4 linked regions of the Homo sapiens genome follow. The gene in region 3 interacts genetically with the main gene of each other region. Each region holds a gene or a part of one and is shown on either strand. Other genes may lie near its edges.

Evidence for each region.
Region 1: changes in CHEK1 (region 3) and SMARCC1 are lethal when combined (synthetic lethality), as found in Homo sapiens cells (one large-scale study listed by BioGRID).
Region 2: changes in CHEK1 (region 3) and IGF1R together harm fitness more than expected from each alone (negative genetic interaction), as found in Homo sapiens cells (one large-scale study listed by BioGRID).
Region 4: changes in CHEK1 (region 3) and TCEA1 are lethal when combined (synthetic lethality), as found in Homo sapiens cells (one large-scale study listed by BioGRID).

The regions. Positions count from the first base shown.
Region 1 is NC_000003.12:47,673,744-47,677,490, forward strand, and holds part of SMARCC1 (SWI/SNF complex subunit SMARCC1), read right to left. Parts: intron 3,040-3,747; coding exon 2,886-3,039; intron 1,846-2,885; coding exon 1,732-1,845; intron 1-1,731. UniProt on the Homo sapiens protein: Involved in transcriptional activation and repression of select genes by chromatin remodeling (alteration of DNA-nucleosome topology).
Region 2 is NC_000015.10:98,707,442-98,711,188, reverse strand, and holds part of IGF1R (insulin-like growth factor 1 receptor isoform 1 precursor), read right to left. Parts: intron 3,628-3,747; coding exon 3,082-3,627; intron 1-3,081. UniProt on the Homo sapiens protein: Receptor tyrosine kinase which mediates actions of insulin-like growth factor 1 (IGF1). Binds IGF1 with high affinity and IGF2 and insulin (INS) with a lower affinity. The activated IGF1R is involved in cell growth and survival control.
Region 3 is NC_000011.10:125,635,093-125,638,839, forward strand, and holds part of CHEK1 (serine/threonine-protein kinase Chk1), read left to right. Parts: intron 1-336; coding exon 337-441; intron 442-2,356; coding exon 2,357-2,452; intron 2,453-3,747. UniProt on the Homo sapiens protein: Serine/threonine-protein kinase which is required for checkpoint-mediated cell cycle arrest and activation of DNA repair in response to the presence of DNA damage or unreplicated DNA.
Region 4 is NC_000008.11:53,980,799-53,984,545, forward strand, and holds part of TCEA1 (transcription elongation factor A protein 1), read right to left. Parts: intron 3,720-3,747; coding exon 3,565-3,719; intron 1-3,564. Other genes in the region: LYPLA1-TCEA1 readthrough, read right to left, coding at 3,565-3,719.

The DNA of each region.
Region 1 (3,747 bases), on a different chromosome or scaffold from region 3:
ACAAATTAGTATAAAACTTGACACAATTTAACTTATATGACAATGTAATAATACTCAAATCAAAACCCAAAAGGCTCCCTCCTTTAAAACTCAATTGATAGCCACTCACAAAAGTATATACTAGTCTGACTTCTGTAACCATAGGTTAGTTTTTCTTGGATCTGAATTTTGTATTAACAAAAACAGGTGTGAGCCACTGTGCCTGGCCAGAAGATGTCTTTTATACTGACTCACATGTTGACCTTTTTTCTATCACTCTTTATTCTTCCATTAGATCCAGTCAGGTCCCAAACTGTTGTGTCAAATTATAGTTTACCCTGAATCAGGACTTTTGTCATGTTTCTAAATAATGTAAACTTTGTAACAGTTTATTCAATTTAATCTCCTTCTGCCTTTCTGCCATTCTTGTAATTTCTACACGTTATAAATCCCAAATATTATTGTTTAAACAACCTGTATTACTTTATATTTAACCACACAGATTACCCTTTTCTCTGCTCCTTATTCCTTCATGGAGTCATGTGCTTTCATCTGGGATCATTATCCTTCATGCTGAAGACATTCCTTTACTTTTCTTATACTGTGTGCTAGCGATAACTTCTGTACATTGTGAATGCCTACAAACGTCTTTATTTCACCTTCAATTTTGAAAGTAATGTCTACTGGATAGAGAATTCCAGATAGATAGTTTTTCTTTTCCAATTTAAAAATGTCCTTTGGCTTTGATCATTTTTGTTGAAAAGTCAGCTATCAGTTTTATTATTGTTCTTTTGAATGTAATATGTTCTTCTCTACCCTCGCCCCCACCCTCCATGTCTGCTTTTAAGATGTTAGTTTTTAAGAAATTAAGCATAATGTACCCGAGTGTGGTCTTCTCTCTATATAAATTTGGATCTGTTCTTTTTATGTGTGTGTTTTTCAGTAGAGGCAAGGCTGCTCTTGAACTCCTGGCCTCAGACAACCCTACTGCCCTGGCCTCCCAAAGTGTTGAGCTTGGCCTGGCTCTGTCTTTCTTGTTTTGTGAGTTGGTATCTTTTTATTTGTTCTGAAGTCTTTTTAGCCATTATATATTCAAGTATCACTCCTCCTCCATTCATTCTCTTATGGGTTTCTAATGATAAACATTAATTCTTTGGACTGTATCATTCATTTTTCTTTTTCTTCTTTTAATAATAGAGACACAGTCTTGCTATGTTGTCCAGGCTGGTCTCAAACTCTGGGGCTCCAGTGATCCTCCTGCCTTGGCCTCCCAAAGTGCTGAAATTACAGGTGTGAGCCACCGTGTCCAGCCTGAACTCTATCTCACATATCTGTTCCACTCTCCTCTCTTTGTCCTGGCCCCTCCCTACCTCAATCCAATTTTTTCTCTTGGTACTTTAGTTTCAATATATCTACTAATTTGTCTCTGAGTTCACTAACCTGTCTTCTGCTGTATGCAGTCGTTATTAAACCTATCAAATAATTTCAAGTATACTTTTCAGTTCTAAAATATTCATGATTCTTTTTACAGATTCTAATTCTCTCTTCAAATTCTCCATTTTCCCCTCGAATTTCTCTAATAGTGTTATTTTTAAAATACCTATCTACTAAGTCATATAGGAATATAAAAGGTAAGATAAATCATAATTGTTTTTAAAAATACCATCAGATTTGAGTAGAAAGCTCATTAGATGTATCTTAGAAGGACTAAGATGTGCTGGATTGCAGCCCATGTGTGATTAGAAAAATTACCTTTGCTAATGTTTTCTTGGAGTAAATGTCAGTACGGAGACCAAAGTTCTGCAAATCAACTGGTTTTTCCTTGTTTTTCTCAGGAAAATTTAGCATCTGTTGAGCAGCAGGAACCTGAGTCAAATAAATGATAAATGGCTGAGTTAGCCTCTTTAAAGTCAAGAGGGTAAATGTTTTTAAAAATTTGTTTGGGCCAGGCGCCGTGGCTCACACCTATAATCCCAGCACTTTGGGAGGCCGAGGCAGGCGGATCACAAGGTCAGGAGTTCAAGACCAGCCTGACCAACGTGGTGAAACCCGTCTCTACTAAAAATACAAAAATTAGCCGGGCGTGGTGGCACGTGCCTATAATCTCAGCTACTCAGGAGGCTGAGGCAGTAGAATTGCTTATAACCCAGAGGTGGAAGTTGCAGCGAACCAAGATCATGCCACTGCACTCCAGCCGGGGGAACAGTGCAAGATTCCGTCTCAAAAAAAAAAAAAAAGTTTAATATTGGCACTTAAACCACTCTTGGTGGATTTCCTACAAAAAACAATAAATACCCACACTTCTACACTATACTTCTAACAAAAATTCAACATATAAGTCACATTTTGGTGTCCCTTTAAATCCCAGAAAGGATAACAAATTTTCATTACTATCTTCTATTTCACAATGGGACAAAATTTATACCTTAGGTTCCTGTGAATCCAACTTAATGCTATATATAATTTGTTTGACATAATCTGTTTTGATAATGTATATATGGATATACACTTTACAAATCTTAGGACAAGTTATAAAGATTTCTTTGCTTCACATTTCTAGAACACAGATTGAAGGAAGGGAAAGAAGATTTTGCATCATCTGCTTACTTATGAGTGTCTTTTTGATGACAGAAGGATAATTTACTTTTATGCATATAAAAGTAAATTAATAATTTGACAGAGTAAGGCATTCGGTCTTGGGATTGGTGGGACAGCATTAACTTAAACACTATATATTCTTTTGGACTGTAATATTTACAGTACACCAAAATACACACACAAGCAAGGATCAAAGAAATAGCACTAATAATAGCATTATAGTATAATAATAATTGTTTCTAAATAGATATGCTATAAATGGCCATTTGTTACTATCCAGGTCTGATGAAAAGTCAACATTAATTTACCTGAGGTGATCGAAGATGCAGAGGCACAAGCCCAGAGGGGGTATCAGCTAATACATTAAAATGAGGAGTAGGAGGAGGTCCCATTGCCATGGGTCTACTTTCCGGGTCAACTTGGTAATTAACGAGTCCCCACTGCTCTAAAAAGGCATGGACCCTAAAGAATAAAGCTCGGAAAGTTAAAATCTAAAGAATCAACTTCATGTGCTTTTACTATCATCATCATGCCATTAAAAAACAGAAACAATAAAACCAGTAAATGTGCTCAGCAGGCTGTCAAACATCACAAACTACTTGACAGATTTTGTTATGTGACGAACAATTTCTACAAGCCACAAGTAATGTTGATAACACAGCACCCCCAAACCTATTACAAAGCCTAATCATTTCAATCACAGAAATGAGAGCACGAATACGCATTTAGGTCCATGGTAATAAAAGAACTCACACATAGACCAAATACACACATTAAAAAAATCCGCATTTTTCGTGACAGAGTCTCGCTCTGTCTCTAAGGCTGGAGTGCAATGGTGCGATCTCAGCTCACTGCAACCTCCTCCGCATCCTTGGTTCAAGAGATTCTCCTGCCTCAGCCTCCCAAGTAGCTGGGATTACAGGTGACCATCACCATGCGCAGCTAATTTTTTGTATTTTTAGTAGAAATGGGTTTTCGCCATGTTGGCCAGACTGGTCTCGAACTCCTGACCTCAGGTGATCTACCCACCTCGGCCTCCCAAAGTGCTGGGATTACAGGTGTGAGCCACCATGCCTGGCCGTTTTTTTTTTTTTTTTAATTTCGGCAGAGCTAGGGCGCAGAGCTTATCCACTCCCAACCTGAATCCACTCCATCCCTGGTTATTTTATG
Region 2 (3,747 bases), on a different chromosome or scaffold from region 3:
TCAATGCCCTTCATGGAGCTCCCCAAATGATTCCTAAGGGTTCTGGCTGGAGAGGTACATGCGGGGCTATGAGCGCTGCAGTGACGACTCAGCCAAAAAGATGATGAGGGGAAGAACTCCTGGTGTTAAAAGAAATGCTCTAAAGCAGCTTACCAACACAGAATGCAAGCCACATCTGTAATTTTAAATTTTCAAGTAGCCACATTAAGAATTAAAAAGAGTCGGGCATGGTGGCTCACACCTGTAATCCTAACACTTTGGGAGGCTGAGGCGGGCGGATCATCTGAGGTCAGGAGTTTGAGACCAGCCTGGCCAACATGGTGGTGAAACCCCGTCTCCAGTTAAAATACAAAAATTAGACGGGCATGGTGGCACATGCTTGTAATTCCAGCTACTTGGGAGGCTGAGGCAAGAGAATCGCTTGAACCCAGGAGACGGAGGTTGCAGTGAGCCGAGATCGCGCCGCTGCACTCCAGCCTGGGTGATGAGAGCGAAACTCCGCCTCAAAAAAAAAAAAAAAGAATAAAAAGGAAACAGGCAGGTGAAATTTAAGAACACATTTTACTTAATCTAATATATCCAAAATGTTATATTTCAACATGTTATCAACATAGTAATTATTAATGAAATGGTGTACAGAGTTTTTGCTATACTATGTCTTGGAAATCTAGTGTATATTTTACACCTAAAGCAGTCCCAATTCGGACAAGCCACAGTTCAAGTACTCAATAAGCCACGTGGCTTACTCAATAAGCGGCTACCACACTGGACAATGCAGGTCTAAATGGAATCTACGCAAACCAAGAGGAAGTTCTGATTCAACTAGAAAATCTCCAAGAAATATGCCCATGCCTGAGTTTTCAGGACAAGGGGAAGGGAAGTCAATTTCCCGGAAAGCAGTTACCAATTTTATATAAGTACTCCATTGTGAAATCACAAGGAACATCAGCAGGGCTGGGATGGTCAAGGAGAAGGCTGCAGGGCGTGGCCTTGGGGAAGCAGGTGACCAACCAACAGGTGATATCAAGGCTCTGTCTGTCACCAGCAGAGCCCACCTTCTAACCATCGTTAACATTTTCACGGTGCTTTTCCTTCCTCCTTTTCATCTTCCAACAGCCCTATGAGGAAGGCAGGCTTTACCCCATTCCACATATGAAGAAACCAAGGCCCAGGCAATTTAAATAACTTGCTCATTTCTAGTCGCCACTCTTAGACTTGGACCCAGAATGCAGGCCTCACCCCTACCCCAGGGGTCTTCAATCAGTAGCTCATCAGAAACAGCCAAAAACCTATGGCAAGACCAAAGTAACTACCTACCTAGTTCGTGAACAACTCTCCACTTAATGACGTTTCATATGGCACCTCCCTTCTCTAAAGAGCTTATGAGTTTTCAAAACATCCTCATGCCCATATATGATCACCACTAAGGGATGTACTGGACTGCCCTAGAAATATCCTAAAAAAGCCCAACTACAGCCCAGAAGGGCTGGCCCATCCAAGGTCATTCCTGGCCCTCATCACCACATTCAACATCTCTTTTCTACTCCATGCTGCCTCCCTTGATAACACCTTTTACTTTTCAGATAAAATTTTTAAATGTCAAGGTTATTTAAAAAATATATTTTGTTGTTTTCTCAAACCAGTGGGTAACTTAATGATAGGGCAGTTTTAATCAACCACACAAGTGACTTTAGCATAAGATCTCCCTCCAACTCCAGCCAACCTTAAAGTGGCCTGACTGCATTCTCAGAGCTCTACAAGGTACTGGCTGCAGCCAGTGGGACCCCTGCCCTCACTAATCAATGTTCACATACGCACTGATCCAATTCTGCAGAATAGAAAAGTGCGTGGCAGATCAGGGTACACAGATCCTTTTCCTGCCTCAGGACTGGTTGAACGGGAACTGAAGGGCTACCTGGGAGGTCTGTCCTTTATTTACTTTACACACTTCACCCCTGTGGGGTCTCGCCTTTTATTTATTTTAGGCAAGTCTAACAATTTGGGGTTTCTTGGTTCTTCATAACTAGAGAACATGGGTTCCTTACATCTTTAACTGGGCCAACACTTAAATAATAGCTATTTATAGCTAACACACTGACTTCAAACCAGTGAGGAAAAGCTTCCTAGCCAATATACATAACTATTGCTGAATGCAATAAGGTGAAGGCTCAGAGTCACATTTTAATACCAAACAGCCTGGTTCTTAAGGAACTGATCACATGAAGGCAAGAGCTCAGTTATTCTCAAGGGAAAATAAGCATATTGCAGATAAATATACAAGAAGCTTCAAAATACCACCATCTGACCCCCAGAACAGTAAATACTTTCCAAAGTTCCTTCACTCGTGAAATCTTAAGATTTTCACAACTGTTCAGTAAACAGGTATAAAAGAACGAAAACAGAATCCCAGAGGTTTAAAAATGCACCCTGCTACACAGCTACCTGCAAGTACAGCCTGAACCTGGGACTTGCAGAAATGGGTCCAGAGGTCTCCCACCTGGGCCAGGTGCTCTGTCATAACCAGGACACCTGAGTATCATAACATCATCACTAGGACCTAAGGACCACTTTCACAGGATATGAGTTAGTGCTTTACCTTCCCTTTATTTAACCATATTCCAAGTCCATTCAAACTAAGGAAGTCCTGCAGAACAAAAAATATCACTTCGCACAAAGGATGAAAGAGCTGACACATAAGCAGCCCCCAGCTGCCAAGGCTCAGGGACTTCCAAGCACACCAGGTCACCTTTCTCATCAGGAATTCAAAGCTGAAGGTCAGCAAGTGTCTAGCCCAGGAGTGTGCTGGATTATTTCTAACATGTGATTTGAACAGTCTTGACAGCAGCCATGATGGCCTCCAGCCACGCCACAGTCCCGCAATCCAAGAGTCCCAGATGCAAAGGAAAGCCAACCAAGACCCCCACTGGGAACCACTTCCGCACAGCAGGCATGCCACGTCCTAAATGCAACACGACTGCACCCTGCCCAGCGGAACTCGTGCACTCAGAAGAGAAGGGAGGTCAAGGAGGAGGAGAGGAGAGAGAGAGGCAGAGAGAAAGCAGCAGTCAGCATCATTCTTACTTTTCTGGCAGCGGTTTGTGGTCCAGCAGCGGTAGTTGTACTCATTGTTGATGGTGGTCTTCTCACACATCGGCTTCTCCTCCATGGTCCCTGGACACAGGTCCCCACATTCCTTTGGGGGCTTATTCCCCACAATGTAGTTATTGGACACCGCATCCAGGATCAGGGACCAGTCCACAGTGGAGAGGTAACAGAGGTCAGCATTTTTCTCAATCCTGATGGCCCCCCGAGTAATGTTCCTCAGGTTGTAAAGCCCAATATCCTTGAGATTGGTCATCTCGAAGATGACCAGGGCGTAGTTGTAGAAGAGTTTCCAGCCGCGGATGACCGTGAGGTTGGGGAAGAGGTCTCCGAGGCTCTCGAGGCCAGCCACTCGGAACAGCAGCAAGTACTCGGTAATGACCGTGAGCTTGGGGAAGCGGTAGCTGCGGTAGTCCTCGGCCTTGGAGATGAGCAGGATGTGGAGGTAGCCCTCGATCACCGTGCAGTTCTCCAGGCGCTTCAGCTGCTGATAGTCGTTGCGGATGTCGATGCCTGGCCCGCAGACTGAAGGGAGACAAGAGGGTAAACGTCTCAGTTAGAAGGAAATAATTTTTAAACTATTTTCCAAACAATAATACAGTTGGTTTTCAGGAATCCTGTATTATTATTAAAGAAATGAGGTTC
Region 3 (3,747 bases):
GACTACAGATGCACACCATCACGCCCAGCTAATTTTATTTATTTTTTGTAGAGATGGGGTCTCACTATGTTGCCCAGGCTGGTCTTGAACTCCTGGGCTCAAGCAGTCCTTCTGCCTCAGCCTCCCAAAGTGCTGTGATTACAGGCCTGAGCTGCCATGCCTATCCTGATTCATCTATCTTTGAAGTGCCTCTAAAGTTTCCAAGTTGGGATTCTTAGTGTGAAAACCATATTGAATTAATTCAAAGGAAACTTTTCATGGATTTATATTATTATTTTTCCTTGAAATCTTTATAATAAGAACATTTAAAAAAACTGGGACTTGCTTTGTTTTTAGAATTGCCATGGGACCAACCCAGTGACAGCTGTCAGGAGTATTCTGACTGGAAAGAAAAAAAAACATACCTCAACCCTTGGAAAAAAATCGATTCTGCTCCTCTAGGTAACTGAATTATCTTGAGTGAAAGAGTACCGATTTCTTGGATATGAAGTCTTGTGCTATTTGAATTTTTTCTTACTTTTTTTTTTGTTTTAAACTTACAAATAATTCATGTTCGTTGTAGATAAAATAGTAACTATAAGTAAAAAATTAAGGAAAAAATAACTCTTTAGTCCCAGAACTCTGCAATAGATTTTTAAAAATATTTTGGGGAGTGTATATTCAGAGCAACTTGAATCTGCTCTTAGATGGCTTTTTACTTAAAGTTTTCATATGTGCTATACTTTGTTGCAAATACACTCGTTTGTTGCTTAATTATAGGGATGCACTCTAACAAATGTTTCATTAGGTGGTTTCATCATTGTGTGAACATCATAGAGTATATTTACATAAATCTAGATAGTATAGCTTACTATAAATCTAGGCTATTTGGTATACCCTATTGATCTCAGGCTGCAAACCTGTACAGCATGTTACTATACTGAGCACTGTAAGGAATTGTAACATAATGGTATTTGTGTATCTAAGTATAGAAAAAGTATAGTAAAAATACAGTATTATAATCTAATGGGACTGTCTGTTATACGTGTGGTCCATTCCTGACTGAAACATCATTAATGTGGCCCATAAGTATGTAAAATGAATATATGTATATTATTTATATGTGTTTTTATACAAAATGAGATCACACTAATAATATTTTGTAACTGTTTTTGGTTTTAGTGCGCAGCGAACATTCTTCCATGACTATAATTGTAGGTCTACATCGTTGGTTTAAAGGCTGTGATAATATTCTGCCATGTGGATATGCCTTACTTTACTCTTTTAATCACTTTGTTGGAGATTTTTCTAAATTTTCACAGATACAAAAGAGATATAAGTATCTGTGTAACTTAATCATGACACATACCCTTAAATTGTTCATTGAAATCCCCAGAAGCAAAATTGCAGGATCAAGGATGTAGTTTTTATTATTATGGCTTATTTTGTCAAATTGCTTCCCGAAAGTTCGAACCATTTCATCACAGTCTCATCAATTTACATTAAGGAAAAAAACTTTAAATAATAGTTTTTCATTTTTATTTTAAATTTAATACTAATGAAGTTGTATACCCTTTATGTATGTATTAGTTTTTTGTCTATTTTGCTCATTTTTGTCAAGGATATTGTTTTTCTTACCACTTTGAAGCTTTTTTTTTTCCTTGATAACACATTGACCTTTGCACTTGTTACAAATACTTTTCACAATTTATCATTTATTTTCATTTTGTTTTGCTATATTGACATTCAAATCTATTATCTTGTCCTTTGTGGTCCCTGACTATAATTTCTTTGGAAAGGTCTTCTACCTCTACTATTTAAAAGTTCCCTATGTTTTCATTTAGTGTTTTTATGGCTTCATTTTTCCATTTAAATCTTTGGTCCATTAGGAAATAATCTTCACATAGGAAGATACGTGAATTTTTTCTCAAGAAAATTAAGATACCTTAGGATGGTTAGTTAGATTACTGTCTCTTAAAAAGTTATTGGTAAGTAAATGTTCATTATAAAACTGTGTGAATAAGGAGGTCACGTGAGAACATGACATTGAAGTAATGAAATTCGGTATTGAAAATGGATAAGAGGGGTTTCTGTATCTTTTTGTTAATCTCGTCACATGAGGAGAAACATTTCCATCTGGCTCTTGTTCTCAGTTGCAAACAATTGAGAATCAGATCAGGGAAGACTACTCCAAGATACAGCAGCAGAGAAAAACTGCATGAAATTAAAGCAGTAATTTAGTAGCTTTAATTCTTTCTCTTCCCCAGGAATAATATTTAGACATAAGTAGGCTAACAGAAAATGTGTTTCTTACCTCAAGCCATAGGCTTCTCTAACATGATTCTTTCGTGAATGTTGTCGTAATGTTTGTTTTTAGCTCTGCTGCATAAAATCTTAGTTGAGAATCCATCAGCAAGAATTACCATTCCAGACATCAAAAAAGATAGATGGTACAACAAACCCCTCAAGAAAGGTAATATCCTTAAACTACAAGTTTGTTTGTTTTTCTGTGGAAGAAAAGGTAATTGCAAAGTTATTATCACAAGTCAACAACACATGATAGCTATGATCTCTGTCCTCATGGAGATTATAATGTCCAGTAGAAAAAAATACAGAAATAATTTTGTTTATTAATAATTATAAAGGGGAAAGTCAGGGTACTATAGCTAAGTGTTTGACCAAGTCTAAGGGACAGGGAAGACTTTTCTTCCTGAAGAAATTACATTAAATCTAAGATTTGAAGATTAAAGGGAAGCTAGGCAGGCAAAGTAAGTGGCAGATTTGATTCTGAACAGGGGAAGCAGTATTTGAAAAATCTTAGATTTTAGAAAGTCTGATGCTTTTGAGAAACTTGAAAGATCAGTATGGCACAAGCCGTGTCTGTTGTGTTCATCATTGTATCATCAGTGCTTTAGCACAGTATATGGTGCACCATAGGCACTCATTAAATATTTGTTGAGTGAGTGAACAGGGAAGTGGGAGAGGAAGACAGGTTTGAGATGAGGCCAGAGAGGTCGCTAGTGGCCAATTTGTGGAAGAAGACCTTGTAAGCCATGTTAAGGATTTTGGGCTTTAACTTAAGACCACTGGGGAGACCTCTGAGAGATTTTAAGCAAGACTATGACATAGTCATATCTTCGGTTTAAAAATATTTCTCTGACTTCCTTATTTTTTTTCCATTGTTTTTTATGAATAGGGAAAGATTCAGGGTGCTGTAGGTTTTTCTGCTAGTTGTCTAGAAGTGGGAGGCTGGTGGCTTGGAATAGGTTAGGGCAATGGTATTGGAGAAATGAGATGATTCCAAAGAAATTTAAGAACTAGTATTGATAGGACTGTTAGGCTGTGAATGGAAGGAGAGAGGACAATGACTAGAGATGATGAATGAAAAACATTCAGAGAGTTATTAATGTTTAACTCTGTCCTCATGGATAGAAAAGAGTTAATGTTTAAACATTCACTCTTCTTTAATACCTCTCTGCATGTTTCTTCCTCCTTGTCCTAACTTAAAGTCCAATTCTCCCCTGAGGACACTGCTTCCTCTGAAGCGGTAGGTGTTTTCTTTCCCATACCCTCATGTCCTTTGATCTGGACATGGTACAGGTGTCCTCCTTATTCTTCATTGTCACTTTCTCCCATCTTCCTTTATGTCTCTCCCCTCTAACTTTTGAACCCCAAATTAAAATTTCTGCCGTACTATCACAGTCTGCAAAATGACTCTTGATGTTATTTTCGTCATGATTCTTGGTGATTTAAATATTTATTTGGATC
Region 4 (3,747 bases), on a different chromosome or scaffold from region 3:
TAGAAATAAGACTAAGTTTAGTGAGGAAGGCATATGGAAAGCTGGGATAAGCCAAAAGCTAGGTCTCTTACACCAGTTAGCCAAATTGTGAATGCAAAGGAAAATTTCTTGATGGAAATTAAAAGTGCTACTCCAGTGAACACATGAATAATGATCAAAATAGCCTTATTGCCGATATGAAAACGTTTTAGTGGCCTAGACAGAAGATCAAACCAACCACAACATTCCCTTAAGCCAAAGCCTAATCCAGAAAAAGGCCTTAACTCTTTAATGCTGAGAGAGATGAGGAAGCTGCCGAAGAAAAGTCAAGAGGCTACCAGAAGCTGGTTCATGAGGTTTAAGGAAAGAAGCTGTCTCCATAACATAGTACAAAATGCAAGGTGAAGCAGCAAGTGCTGATGGAGAAGCTACGGCAAGTTATCCAAAAGATCTAGCTAAGATCATTGATGAAGGTAGCTATTCTAAACAAAGATTTTCAATGTTGATGAATATTGGAAGAGGGTGACATCTAGGACTTTCACAGCTAAAGAGAAGAAGTCAACGCCTGCCTTCAAAGCCTCAAAGGACTTTGAAGGACTCTCTTGTTAGGGGCTAAAGCATCTGGTGACTTCAAGTTGAAGCCAATGCTCATTTACCATTTGGAAAATCTTACAGCCCTTAAGAATTATGCTACCTCTACTCTGTCTGTGTTCTATAAATGAAACAACAAAGCCTGGATGACAGCACATCTATTTACAGCATGATTTACTGAATATTTTAACCCCACTATTGAGACCTACTGCTCAGAAAAAAGATTTCTTTCAAAATATTCCTACTCATTGACAATGCACTTAGTCATCAATATGCCTAGTCATCCAATAGCTCTGATGGAGACATACAAGGAGATTAATGTTATTTTCATGCCTGCTAACAACAACATTGATTCTGCAGTTCATGAATCAAGGAGTAATTCTGACTTTTTTTTTTTTTTTTGAGACAGGATTTCACTCTGTCACCCACGCTGGAGCGCAGTGGTGCAATCTCAGCTTACTGAAACCTCCACCTCTTGGCCTAAAGTGATCCTCCCACCTCAGCCTCCTGAGTAGCTGGGATTACAGGAACGCACCACACCATGCCCAGCTAAGTTTTCTTTTTTTTTTTTTTTTTTGTAGAGATGGGAACTTGCTATGTTGCCCGGGCTAGTCTCCACCTCCTGGACTCAAGTGATCTGCTCATCTCGGCTTCCCAAACTGCTTTGATTACAGGTGTGGCCACCATGCCCAACTGACTTTCAAGTTTTATTATTTCAGAAATACTTTTTGCAAGGCTGTAGCTTCTACAAAAAGTAATTCTTCAGATAGATCTGAATAAAGTAAACTGAAAACCTTTTGGAAAGGATTAACCATCCTAGATGCCATTAGGAACATTAGTGATTCATTGAGAAGAGGTCAATATGTCAACATTTAGAGGAGTTTGAAAAAAGTTGACTCCAATCATCATGGATGACTTTGAGGGGTTTGACTTCACCAGAGAAAGTAACCACAGAGGGGCCAGGCACGGTGGCTCACGCCTGTAATCCCAGAACTTTGGAAGGCCGAGGCGGGTGGATCACCTGAGGTCAGGAGTTTGAGACCAGCCTGCCCAACATGGTGAAACCCTGTCTCTACTAAAAGTACAAAAATTAGCTGGGCTTGGTGGCGGGCGCCTGTAATCCCAGCTACTCAGGAGACTAAGGCAGGAGAATCGCTTGAACCCAGGAGGCAGAGGTTGCAGTGAGCAGAGATCACACCACTGCACTCCAGCCTGGGCGACAACAGTGAAACTCCATTCCCCACCAAAAAAAAAAAAAAAAAAAAAAAATGAAAGTAACCACAGATGTAATGGAAAAAGCATGAGAAGGAAGATTAGAAGTAGAGCTTCAAGATGTGACTGAGTTGCTTCAATCTCATAATAAAAGCTGAATAGATGAGATGCTTCTTGTGGAGGAGCAAAAAGTAATTTCCTGAGATGGAACCTATTCCTGGTGAAGATGCTGTGAACATTGTTGAAATGACAGCAAAGGATTTAGAATAATATGTCAACTTAGTTGATAAGGCAGCAGCAGCATTTGACAGCACTGACTCCAATTCTGAAAGAACATCTACTATGGATAAATGCTATTAAACAGCATCACAGGCTACCAAGAAATATTTCATGAATATTTGCTCCATCAATGCATCAAATCTCACTGTTGTCTTATTTTACAAAATTACCACAGCCACCTCAACCTTCAATAACCACTACCCTAATCAGTCAGCAGCCGTCAACATCCAGGCAATTCCCTTTTCCAGAAAAATAGTATGACTTGCTGAAGACTCAGATGATCATGAGCAATTTTTAGCAAGGTGTACATTGTTTAGCAAGGTATAAGGTGTACACTGTTTTCTTAGATGTAATGCTATTGTACATTTAGTAGATTATAGTATAAGCATAACTTTTATATGTACTGGAAAGTCAAAAAATTTGTGTGACTCGTGTGTCACTTTATTGCAGTAGTCCAATCCAAACTTGCAATGTATCTGAGGTATGTTTGTGTACAGAAGAAAAATTCACTCTCTTCAATGTTCACTAAAACGTTGAAATTGTAGATACAATATAGCTAATATCTATGAACAACCATGTCTATAAATAGCAAGCTATAAATTTCATTTTTTCCATAATTCCCTGTAAAAATTTAAGAAATAATCAATAGGATGGGCACAGTGGCTCACGCCTGTGATCCCAGCAGGAGATTACAGGAGCAGGAGAATCTGAAGCAGGAGAATCGCTTGAACCCGGGAGGCAGAGGTTGCAGTGAGCCAAGACTATGCCATTGCATCCCAGCCCAGGCAACAAGGGCAAAATTTCGTATCAAAAAAAAAAAAGAAATAATCAATATGATGTGACCAATTTTATAGTGTTTAACCACAAAAAAGGTTAGCACTTACAAAGTGTACTTGCAATTAAGAGATTCAACTCTCTGGTTCTACACTAATTCATAAAAAGTAAAAAACACTTGGTGGCCAGCCGTGGTGGCTCACACCTGTAATTCCAACACTTTGGGAGGCCAAGGCGGACAGATCATCTGGAGGTTGGGAGTTCGAGACCAGCCTGACCAACATGAAGAAACCCTGTCTCTACTAAAAATACAAAAATTAGCTGGGTGTGGTGGTGCACGCCTGTAATCCCATCTACTTGGGAGGCTGAGGCAGGAGAATCGCTTGAACCCAGGAGGGGGAGGTTGCGGTGGGCCAAGATCGTGCCATTGCACTCCAGCCTGGTCAACAAAAGCAAAACTCTGTCTCGAAAGAAAAAAAAGTAAAACACGTTTGTTTTTAGAAAATAATTTAGTGTAATCACATTAAAAGCATGGAAACAGTTGGAGGGGGAGCAAAGTACTGACAAAAGACACAATCACCTTAAGTATTTGTCTAGTATATAAATATATCAGAATAACGGAAATTTATTACATATGCAATATTTATATAGTAGTCTATGATGATAATAGGCTTTACACTTCACAACACAGAATCACATTATAGAAACCTCAGATTCACACATACTCACCTCTGCTGTCATTCTAGCAAATAAGTCAGGAGGAATATTCCCACAGAGGACATTTTTCCTTAAATTTGGATTTTTTGCATCTTTAAGATTTGATATCCTACTTCGTACTCTATTTTTGTATTTCATGTCTGTATTCCTTATTTCTTGATATATAGGTACCAGGCCGTTAAGGAAAAAAGGCAA